Linked DNA regions of Homo sapiens. The protein of the gene in region 1 purifies or fractionates together with the protein of each later gene. This does not show direct contact. Each region holds a gene or a part of one and is shown in the gene's direction. Other genes may lie near its edges. The genes, in order: TRAFD1, ACAD11 and BBS4.

Evidence for each region.
Region 2: the proteins of TRAFD1 (region 1) and ACAD11 purify together in Homo sapiens (affinity purification with mass spectrometry; 2 studies listed by BioGRID and IntAct, with this or other methods). This does not show direct contact.
Region 3: the proteins of TRAFD1 (region 1) and BBS4 purify together in Homo sapiens (affinity purification with mass spectrometry; one large-scale study listed by BioGRID and IntAct). This does not show direct contact.

What each region holds. Positions count from the first base shown.
Region 1 is NC_000012.12:112,151,682-112,154,113, forward strand, and holds the end of TRAFD1 (TRAF-type zinc finger domain-containing protein 1), read left to right. Parts: intron 1-119; coding exon 120-459; intron 460-745; coding exon 746-818; intron 819-1,053; coding exon 1,054-1,110; 3' UTR 1,111-1,923; downstream 1,924-2,432. UniProt on the Homo sapiens protein: Negative feedback regulator that controls excessive innate immune responses. Regulates both Toll-like receptor 4 (TLR4) and DDX58/RIG1-like helicases (RLH) pathways.
Region 2 is NC_000003.12:132,635,660-132,639,318, reverse strand, and holds part of ACAD11 (acyl-CoA dehydrogenase family member 11), read left to right. Parts: intron 1-3,659. UniProt on the Homo sapiens protein: Acyl-CoA dehydrogenase, that exhibits maximal activity towards saturated C22-CoA.
Region 3 is NC_000015.10:72,731,202-72,734,860, forward strand, and holds part of BBS4 (BBSome complex member BBS4), read left to right. Parts: intron 1-103; coding exon 104-256; intron 257-353; coding exon 354-525; intron 526-3,659.

The sequences.
Region 1 (2,432 bases):
GCCACCACGCCTGGCTGAGCAGTTGTCTTCTATCTGGAATCTTTTTGTTCCTGCCCTAAACCTGGCACTATAGCCAGAGCAGGCTTTTTCCTAAAGCTGTTACCATTTTCTCTTCTCAGGAGACCTGTCTTCTGGTTACCTGGATGATACTAAGCAGGAAACAGCTAATGGGCCCACCTCCTGTCTGCCTCCCAGCCGACCCATTAACAATATGACAGCTACCTATAACCAGCTATCGAGATCAACATCAGGCCCCAGACCTGGGTGCCAGCCCAGCTCTCCTTGTGTGCCGAAGCTCAGCAACTCAGACAGCCAGGACATCCAGGGGCGGAATCGAGACAGCCAGAATGGGGCCATAGCCCCTGGGCACGTTTCAGTGATTCGCCCTCCTCAAAATCTCTACCCAGAAAACATTGTGCCCTCTTTCTCCCCTGGGCCTTCAGGGAGATACGGAGCTAGGTAAGAATCAGTAGCCCAGGAATGGGGCTTGGGAGTAGCTGAAGCGAACATGGGCAAAGGCCTGGTTACCCTTGCCAGGCCTGGGGTAAGACTGAGGTACTTGCATGGTAAGGGGAGGAGTATGGATTTTCCCTGTATTGTCACCTGACTCCAAAAAAATTATTTTGTGGCCTATGGGTTTTTTGGGGTTTGTCTGCTAGCATAGGACTGCTTCCTGTTCCCTCTGAGTTTGTTGACCTTTGCTCAGGGACACTTCAGGAGCTAGTTTCTAATTGTTTTCTTTCAGTGGTAGGAGTGAAGGTGGCAGGAATTCCCGGGTCACCCCTGCAGCTGCCAACTACCGCAGCAGAACTGCAAAGGTAAGGTGGGCTCCAGCCCATGATGCTCAGTGGGGGACTCAGACATGGTGGGGCTTGTGTGGCTCCTGAAGTTGTAGAAGTTGTTGGGACCAGGCTGGTTGTGGTTCAAAGATTGTTCCTTTGGCTTTTGAGAAGGAGGTTTCTAAGGAAGCGGGACATTTTCGGGGATCCAGGGGAGGAGTAATGCTTTTTCACTTTTTATGTAAAGCTTCGTTTGTGTTGTGTTGTTCACCAGGCAAAGCCTTCCAAGCAACAGGGAGCTGGGGATGCAGAAGAGGAAGAGGAGGAGTAATGGTGTCTCCAGAGACTTTACATCGGTTCCTGTCTTCTGTGCACAGCAGCACTTGCCGCTGTGCAGGCCCACCTCTTTGGCTCTTTGGGTGGGAGAGTTTTTCCAGATTTTAGATTTTTCTAGGTTATGGCCATTTTGTGTCTTTTGAGGTTGTGCTGTGGGGGTTTGGGTTTGAGGGAAGGGAGCAGGGTGGCGGTTGAGGAACGCTTCAGCCTTAGCTGCTACCTTTCGGCAGCAGTGAAATACAAGCTGCAGCCTCGGCTGCCAGGGCTCCCTTTTGACTTATTGTCGCCACTGCCCCTTGGTGCTGTGTGGTCCCAGTGGAAGGAGGGGAAGATTTTGGAAACCTGGTAGCCACCAGTAAGGTGATTCTCTGCCCTGTTGGGGCCTAAATTTGGGGGCTTTTGGGCAACCTCTCCGTGTACTGCGTCTGTCCACACTCGATTGGGCCCCAGGTGTGTATGAGGCGCTCTGGTAAGGTGCTCAGGCCAGTTGCAATGTCTGTCAGTAACGAGGCTTTTGATGTGTTGAGCTGGAGGTGAGTGGACCGGGGGCTGTGTTTTAAGCTGCTTCCTTGGCATTTGGCATCACTGCCTTCTGTTCCCGGGGGAGCATGGATCTTTTGTCCTCACTGCTTTCTAATGGGGAGGGCTGAGGGCTCCCTGTCCCCACAGCAGGTATGTTGGGCTCTGCCCCAGCCCCACACTTGCTCTGAAAACCAAGTGTCAGAGCCCCTTCCCCTTGTTTTTATTTTACTGTTATAATAATTATTAACTTCCTTGTAATAGAAATAAAGTTTGTACTTGGAGTTCAGCTCAGTCTTGTGGTTCCTTCTCCTGTGTGCTTTAGAGACTGCAGGGAGGGCAGGGTAGGCTGGAGTCAGCCCTGGGGTTGGAGGAGGTGAGCAGGGCTGGGCTTTCTCCGGCACTCCAGTAACCCTCGCAGCTCCACCATGAGTCCCTTCTTGGAGTACACAGACATTGAACGTGTAGTGTTTTAAATTGGACTTCTGAGAAAACTGACAGGCTTGCTGCAGCTCCGGTGATGACTGGGGCTAGAAGGGGTGCCTCTGACTGAATAGAGAAAAGCAGATTCTTCAAAAGCCTTCATCCTGAGAGGAGTTGAGCCCTAGCAGGATTAGCTGTTACCCCTCAGTGCCTCCGTCTGCATAGGACCACTGAGCACCGTAGGTCATTTTGAGTTCCTTTGTTCTTCCAACAACCTGTTGGGGTGGGAAAGGTGGGAGGAACTGCCCTATTTCATAGATGGAACACTAGACACGGGAACCATGCGGCCAGTTCTTTGCAGAGGCAGGTCTCTGA
Region 2 (3,659 bases), on another chromosome or scaffold:
ATAAGTTAGCTGCCTACCTTTGAGACTGGTTCTAATCCCAAGTGGTATCTGGTTTACTGCTTAAAAGGATTTGGGAATTTTACATGCATGATGCTGTTTTCTTCAAATAAGTTTTCATCTACTAGTTACAATATTTAGCTTATCCATGTTCTTGCTGTTTTTTCTGGTTCATTTATACTTCTTTGGGGTTTTTAGCCCTATCTCATGAAGAATTTATTATTTGTTTATTATAAACTCTGAGAATAGAGAATTCCAAAAGCTTCTTGAGGCTTCAAAAGAATTACATGAGATTAATATAACCTTGCTCAATGTAAATGTGCATACTGTATTCTTTATAAAGAGTATAAACAAATGAAAGCTGTAATCCTCCACTGAGCACCTACAATGAGGCCTAGGATTACAGTATAGTAGGAATGAATCCTGCTTCTGAGAGGAGGATTTTCTGGGTTCATTAGTTTCTTAGAATGCTAAGATGTTTTAGGGCAGGAAGAGCTAGTGGCACTGATGAATTCTGAATTCTAACCTTGTTAATTATCTACCCTGAGATTAGAAAAATTAAATATGCTAATTTATAATCTAGATAATTATAAAAGCATATGCCTGAAAACATAGCAGGATCTGGCCTGTATTTGATCTGTGTCATTTAATTAATATTTTAGTCGAGTCTACATAATATTGAGTCTCTATAGTAGATAACAAATTAGAACCCACTAGACTTGGAGTTCCTTTAAAACAATGACTGTATCTTATTCATCTTTATATTGCAGGTGCTTATATGATTCTGATGAATCTATGTTGAAGGGATTAATTTTAGTTAATTATTCACTAGCAACTATTTCCATCTCATAAATTTATGCTTAACTTTCATTCCCTAGCAGTGTGAACTTAAAGCATGTTATTCAATCTCTCTCTGTGCCTCTATTTTTATTTTAACTTTTTGTTTTGAAATAATTAGAGTCCCCAAAAAAGTTGTAACAGTGTTATAGTACAGAGAAGTCCTGTGTATCCATCATCCAAATTCTGCAAAATGGATATTATACAACTATGGTACATTATCAAAGCCAGGAAATTGACATTGTGTACCTTTTAAAATTGAAAAAAAAAATTCTGAGTTGCTGGGCAGCTAAAATGAAACAGTCAATGTGGAGCAACTAGCTGGTACCTGGCACATCAATGATGCTCAGTTTATTTCAGGTACCCTCATTTTTCCATTTTTTCCCCTTCATTTTTCTCTCTGACTTTTCTTAGACTACTTGTCAAGCTTCTTCAGAAAAATATTAGGGTATAAGTAAATGCTTCATAATATGTACGAAAACCTAAACAGTGGTTGTAGGGGATAGAATTATAGGAGACATAATTGTACATTTCTGTAATGTTTAGGGTTTGATGTTTTTTGGTTTTTATTTTTAAAACAACAGCATGTTTAATTTTTGTCATCAGAAAACACAACAATTAAGAAAGAAGAATAAACAATTTTAAATGACAAACCTTCCAGGAATGTGTGGAGTAAGCCAGTAAAGGAAACTACAGGATATGGCAAAACGAAATTATTTTCTGTTACTTATTTACAAAGTATTTAAAGCATGTTTGGGCAAGTATTTCAGTAGCACAATAGGCTCACTGCAATGTTGAAAAGAAATCCAGTTTTCCTGGAAAATGTTGATTTTCCAAATATAAATTTTACCAGTAGAGAAATGTTTAAGATCTTGGAGTTTAATGTAAAATCTGCATATTGTCATTTCAACTTGAAAAATATATTTAATTAGAAACATCCATTGGAACTTGTCAACTTCAGTGATCTAGAAATTGAAACCCCTTATTTTTGACCTCACCCTCTTTACCTTCTGTTCTTTTATTTCTCTGCATCTTCCCTGAGACACTGCAAATTTGATTGCTGTTAATTTAGAATCCATAAGCCCTTCATGACTTCACTTGACTTCTTATCCTACATAAGCCACATGGTCATAATCAGTCATCTCAAAAACTACCTTTAGTATCAATTTCATTAATAATTTTTTGACTATAGATGTATGCAAGTAATGTAAGAATTATAAAGTGTCCTGACCTTAGGTTACTTATTATTCTAGAATCTTCCCACCCTGACTTTATATCATCATTATTATTATTATTTTACTTTTTATTTTTTCTAATAACCCTACAGGGGATGTCCATCACCCCTTGACTTTAACCAGTTTCTAGCCCTAAACTTGAATCCTCATATTTTTGCTGCAGAATAAAGTCGTGAAGTAAGGTTAATTGGATCTGGGACATTTTTATGCCACATGATTTTATCTAGGCTGTAACTTCATCTCTTAGTAAAACCTGTGACATTTAAAAAATGGCTTTTCTAAATCTTTTCCCTTCTTCTCAAACTCTCACATTTCTTGTCCCATCTCGGTTCCCACTCTCAGCATGTGGTCTTGTCTTCTACCTAACTCATCTTTGTCCTTTCAGTCATTTTCCAGCATAGCCTGCTTTCTAGGAATTACACCATGCCCCTCAAAGTTCTCTTTATATTGTTGAAGACATTTTCGTCCGCTACACAATATCACCTGTATGCAGATTGATGGGTGATATTTTTCTTTAGCCTCATTGCCAAGAAAATTTGTCCCTCTTGAGCAGCTGGTTTGTTTTTGACCTGCATACACTATAAAGATTGTGACTGACCATGCTTCACACTTTATTTTACCCGCTATAAAATTCAAAGCAAATTTTACTACCCACACTAACAACTATGCATGTCCTATCACATTCAATTATGTGTAATAACCTTACTCCTAGCTTCATCTTTTCATTACAAATTCTATTATTTTCTTCCCTGCCTTCTTCATCTACTGTTTGTTCTGTTGGATTGTATGTATTTTTTGTTTGTTTCGAATGCCAATACACATACATATTAATAAAATTCAATGGTGTAAAAAGTATACATAAAATGAATCTCTTTATAAAGAAGATAATTTAAAAAACTAAAAGCTTTCTGTTGAGCTGAGGTTTCAGAAAAACTATCAAAAATAATTTTACTAATAAGTTCCCTAGCAGCAGTAAGACGAACTAGTAAATGTCCAGATCAACCACTAAAAGTTATGTTGAGCTTTTAATAACTCTCAACACAAACAGGCATCAACAGGACTCTAATTAGCTATTGCTAATTAATTTGCACTAATTTATGCAATTTGATGAGCCATCAGCTTTTCTCACTGGCTGTTGTTTTATAGCTTTGTGTTTTTACCCCAAAAATGGTTCAGATATTCTGAAAAGTAACTCCAGAGAAGTTTCCCAATTGTATTAAAAAAGAAAAGTAATCATTTATAGCATAAGTAAGTGCCTCATCTTTACTTTGGATGTTAAAAGCATAGATAACAAATAGAATGATGTAAGAGAAAAATGCATCCATCCTCTTCAGTAGTTTCACAAATCTAGCTAGTATAGTAATTTATAATACTTATAATATTATAAATTTATAGTATAATATAACCACAATAAAAGCTCTTATAAAGTCATAGAGAAAGGAGTGATCAATTTTTTTCCACAGTAACAATGGCAAAGTTTTGATTGCCTTGCTATATATGCCAAGCTCTGAACATATTCATCAAATAAATACATATTGGCCATCTGTTGTGTGCCAGGTTCTTTGCTAGAAACTCATACATGAACTATAT
Region 3 (3,659 bases), on another chromosome or scaffold:
CATCTATGCTGATGGGCCTGCTGAGTATAGACTCAGGAAAGCTGCCCCACTGCTACAGCCTTTTGGGAATGACTGAATGACTTTCTCTGTGCCATGTTTTCAGGCCATCTTGGCAGCAGGCAGCATGATGCAGACCCACGGGGACTTTGATGTTGCCCTCACCAAATACAGAGTTGTGGCTTGTGCTGTTCCAGAAAGTCCTCCACTCTGGAATAACATTGGAATGTGTTTCTTTGGCAAGAAGAAATATGTGGCGGTGAGTGTCCCCTCATGTTCTTTGTTTGTATTTCTACATGTGGTTATTGGGTCTGTTTAGCTTGCCCTTCTCATTGAGTGCCCCTTCTCTCTCATAGGCCATCAGCTGCCTGAAACGAGCCAACTACTTGGCACCCTTTGATTGGAAGATTCTGTATAATTTGGGCCTTGTCCATTTGACCATGCAGCAGTATGCATCAGCTTTTCATTTTCTCAGTGCGGCCATCAACTTCCAGCCAAAGATGGGGGAGCTCTACATGCTCTTGGCAGGTAAGAAACATTTATGTGGAAAACTCTCTCTGCCATCTGTAATGAGGGAAAAATGGATTAGAATCATAGAAGATCAGTGGCTGTCTCATAGGAGCCATTCCCTTAGAGATCCTGTAGGAATCTGGATTACTGTCCTGGAGCTTGAAGAAATAGAAAAAGATGACAAAGGAACTTGGTTGTTTCTAACTTGGGGGAGTTTGACTCAGAGACCAACAGGTTAAATAAAGATCATCCCTAGTTCACCTTTTACCAGTTTTTTCCTCTTGCCTTGACAATTCATTTATGTATATATTGAGTCCAACTAAGTTCCAGACAGCAAGTGTTAAGAGCTTGGGTTTTAGGTAGGGTCCTGCCTCTACTACTTATTATATGTACCTAGGGCTGATGTGAGGATTGCATGATTAAGCTCTCAATTAATAATACTGGTTTTGTTGAAATACTGATTTTTGAAAACTGTTGGTTTTACTGTGGTTATATAATTGGTCTATTATTATCAATATTGTTGTTACTATAATTGGCCCCTAGGTGATACTTCCAAGTCAAGCTACCTTATGTTGAAACCCTTATCTCTTCTGAGCATGTTATATAGAATGCCATTCTCTTCCTGAAACTCCATTTTATGCCATGCAAATACTAAAATTGATCATAAAAATAAGTTAAAATTAATCAAACACTTTAACAATTATGCACAACCATTTTAAAGTACTGACTAGTCTTTCTAGGAATTTTTTTCTCCATATACATTTACTTACTAAATGTAAGACCCAAAGCAGATTTCCATGTCCTCATTTGGCAGTCGTCTTCCAGTGGCTTTTTGTTCATTACTGTGGGTTCTTATTTAAAAGAGAAAGCTTGCAAAAGCAATTGTGGTTATTTGAGGGTTGCCTGAATACAAAGATAACTTTAAAAAAAAAACATAGGTTTTATTATTATTCAGATATGGTATGGGCAACAGATCAGAAGACATCTGCCACTGGAAAGATAGTCTGTTACAATTCCTGAGAAGGAGGGCATGCTACACCGTGCAGGGCCACATGGGGAAGCACCAGGTCAATCAGGAGGTAGAGGGAGCAAGGGGTAAATGTGGGCACAATTCTTTATTGTAGTTTTCATGGGTAGAAATGCCCTCCCCGGGGCAAGACCGGGAAAGCAGGTTAACCAGGTTGGGGATTGGCCAGTTTGAATAATTTCAGTGGGCTCTGGGCTATAGGGCTGTCTCTAGGTGTCTGGTACCTGACCCTCGGGTGACTAGGACTAGGGAATATTGGCCCAGTGTCAGGGCCCAGTAAAGGAGGCAGTTAAGAATATGAACACTGGGTTGGTCGGTCTGCATACAGAAGGTACTCTTGTAGGGGTTATATCTAGGAATTAGCTGACTGTGGGAGGGACAGTCTCCCCAGGGTCAGTAAGGCCCCAGATGTCAAAACATCAGAATAAAAAGGCTAAAGTGGGGTGTGATGGTACATACCTGTAGTGCTGGCTACTTGGGAGGCTAAGGCAGGAAGTTTGCTTAAGCCCAGGAGTTGGGAGTACAGCCTGGGCAACACAGTGAGACTCCATTCCTCTCTCTTTTTTTAAAAATTTTATTTTAGGTTCAGGGGTACATGTGCATCCTGTTACACAGGCACGTGTGTCATGGGGATTAGTTGTACAGATTATTTCATCACCCAGGTACTAAGCCTAGTACCCAATAGTTATTTTTTTCTGGCCCTCCCCCTCCTCCAGTAAGCTCCAGTGTCTGTTTCCCTCTGTGTCTCCATGTGTTCTCATCATTTAGCTCTTATAGTGAGAACATGCAGGATTTGGTTTTCTATCCTTTATTAATTTGCTAAGGATGGTGGCCTCCAGCTCCATCTATGTTGCTGCAAAGGACACGATCTTGTTCTTTTGTATGGCTGTGTCGTATTCCATGGTGTACATTTACATTTTGTTTATCCAGTCTACCATTGATGGGCATTTAGGTTGATTTCACATCTTTGCTATTGTGAATAGTGCTGCATTGAACACACACATGCATGTGTCTTTATGGCAGAACGATTTACATTCCTTTGGGCATATACCCAGTAATGGGATTGCTGGGTCGAAGGGTAGTTGTATTTTTAGCTCTTTGGGGAATTGCCAGATTGCTTTCCACAATGGTTGAACTAATTTACACTCCCATCAACAGTGTATAAGCATTCCCTTTTCTCTGCAGCCTCACCAGGATGTTATATTTTGAGTTTTTAATAATAGCCATTTTGACTGGTGTGAGATGGTTATCTCACTGTGGTTTCAATTTGCATTTCTCTAATCAGTGATAGAGTTTTTCATATGCTTGTTGGCTGCATACATGACTTCTTTTGAAGTGTCTGTTTATGTCCTTTGCCCATTTTAATGGGATTGTATTCTTCTTGTAAATTTGCTTAAGTTCCTTATAGATCCTGGATATTAGACCTGCATGGTTTGCAAATATTTTCTCCCATTTTGTACATTGTCTGTTTACTGTGTTGATAGTTTCTTTAGATAGCTGGGTTCTAATGGAACACAGAAATGTAAACAGCCATAATGTAAGAGATAACAGCGATGCTAACTTTACAAAGTAGAGATGGCATTCAAACTGGATCCTGAACAACAAGCTAAAATGGAATAGCACAGAATGGCTGAGGAGCCACTGTGAAGAAAGGCATGCAGCCATGAAACTGCAGTGTCCCTTGCTGTTAGTGGGGGTTAGTGTTAGAGAATATGATGGGAGATGAATCAGGAAAGATATTCTGGGGTCAGATTATGGAGGTCATGCGTACAGTGCAAGGACTTTATCTTAGAGGCCATGTTTGTCCAGCTGTCTTCCTAGATCTCCTCTTAGGTGCCTGGTAGGAGTGAGTGCATAGCTGGTGGGGAGGTGGAATGGGCAGGGCTTCCAGAGCAGCTGTTTTTGTTTTATATATTAGGTGTCAAGGAAATACTGATTTTAAAAAGTGGGGGGAGTGTTTTACTGCTAAATGAAAGTGTAAAGATCATGGTTATAGATGTGGGGGGCCAGTGAGGATTCCTAAGTAGGATGGTAATGTGGTCAGATTTGTAAGGCAGTGAGATACCTGGCAGCGCTGTGGAAGGTGGAATGGAGGCAGGTGGGGACTTTGACACTGGGGAATAAA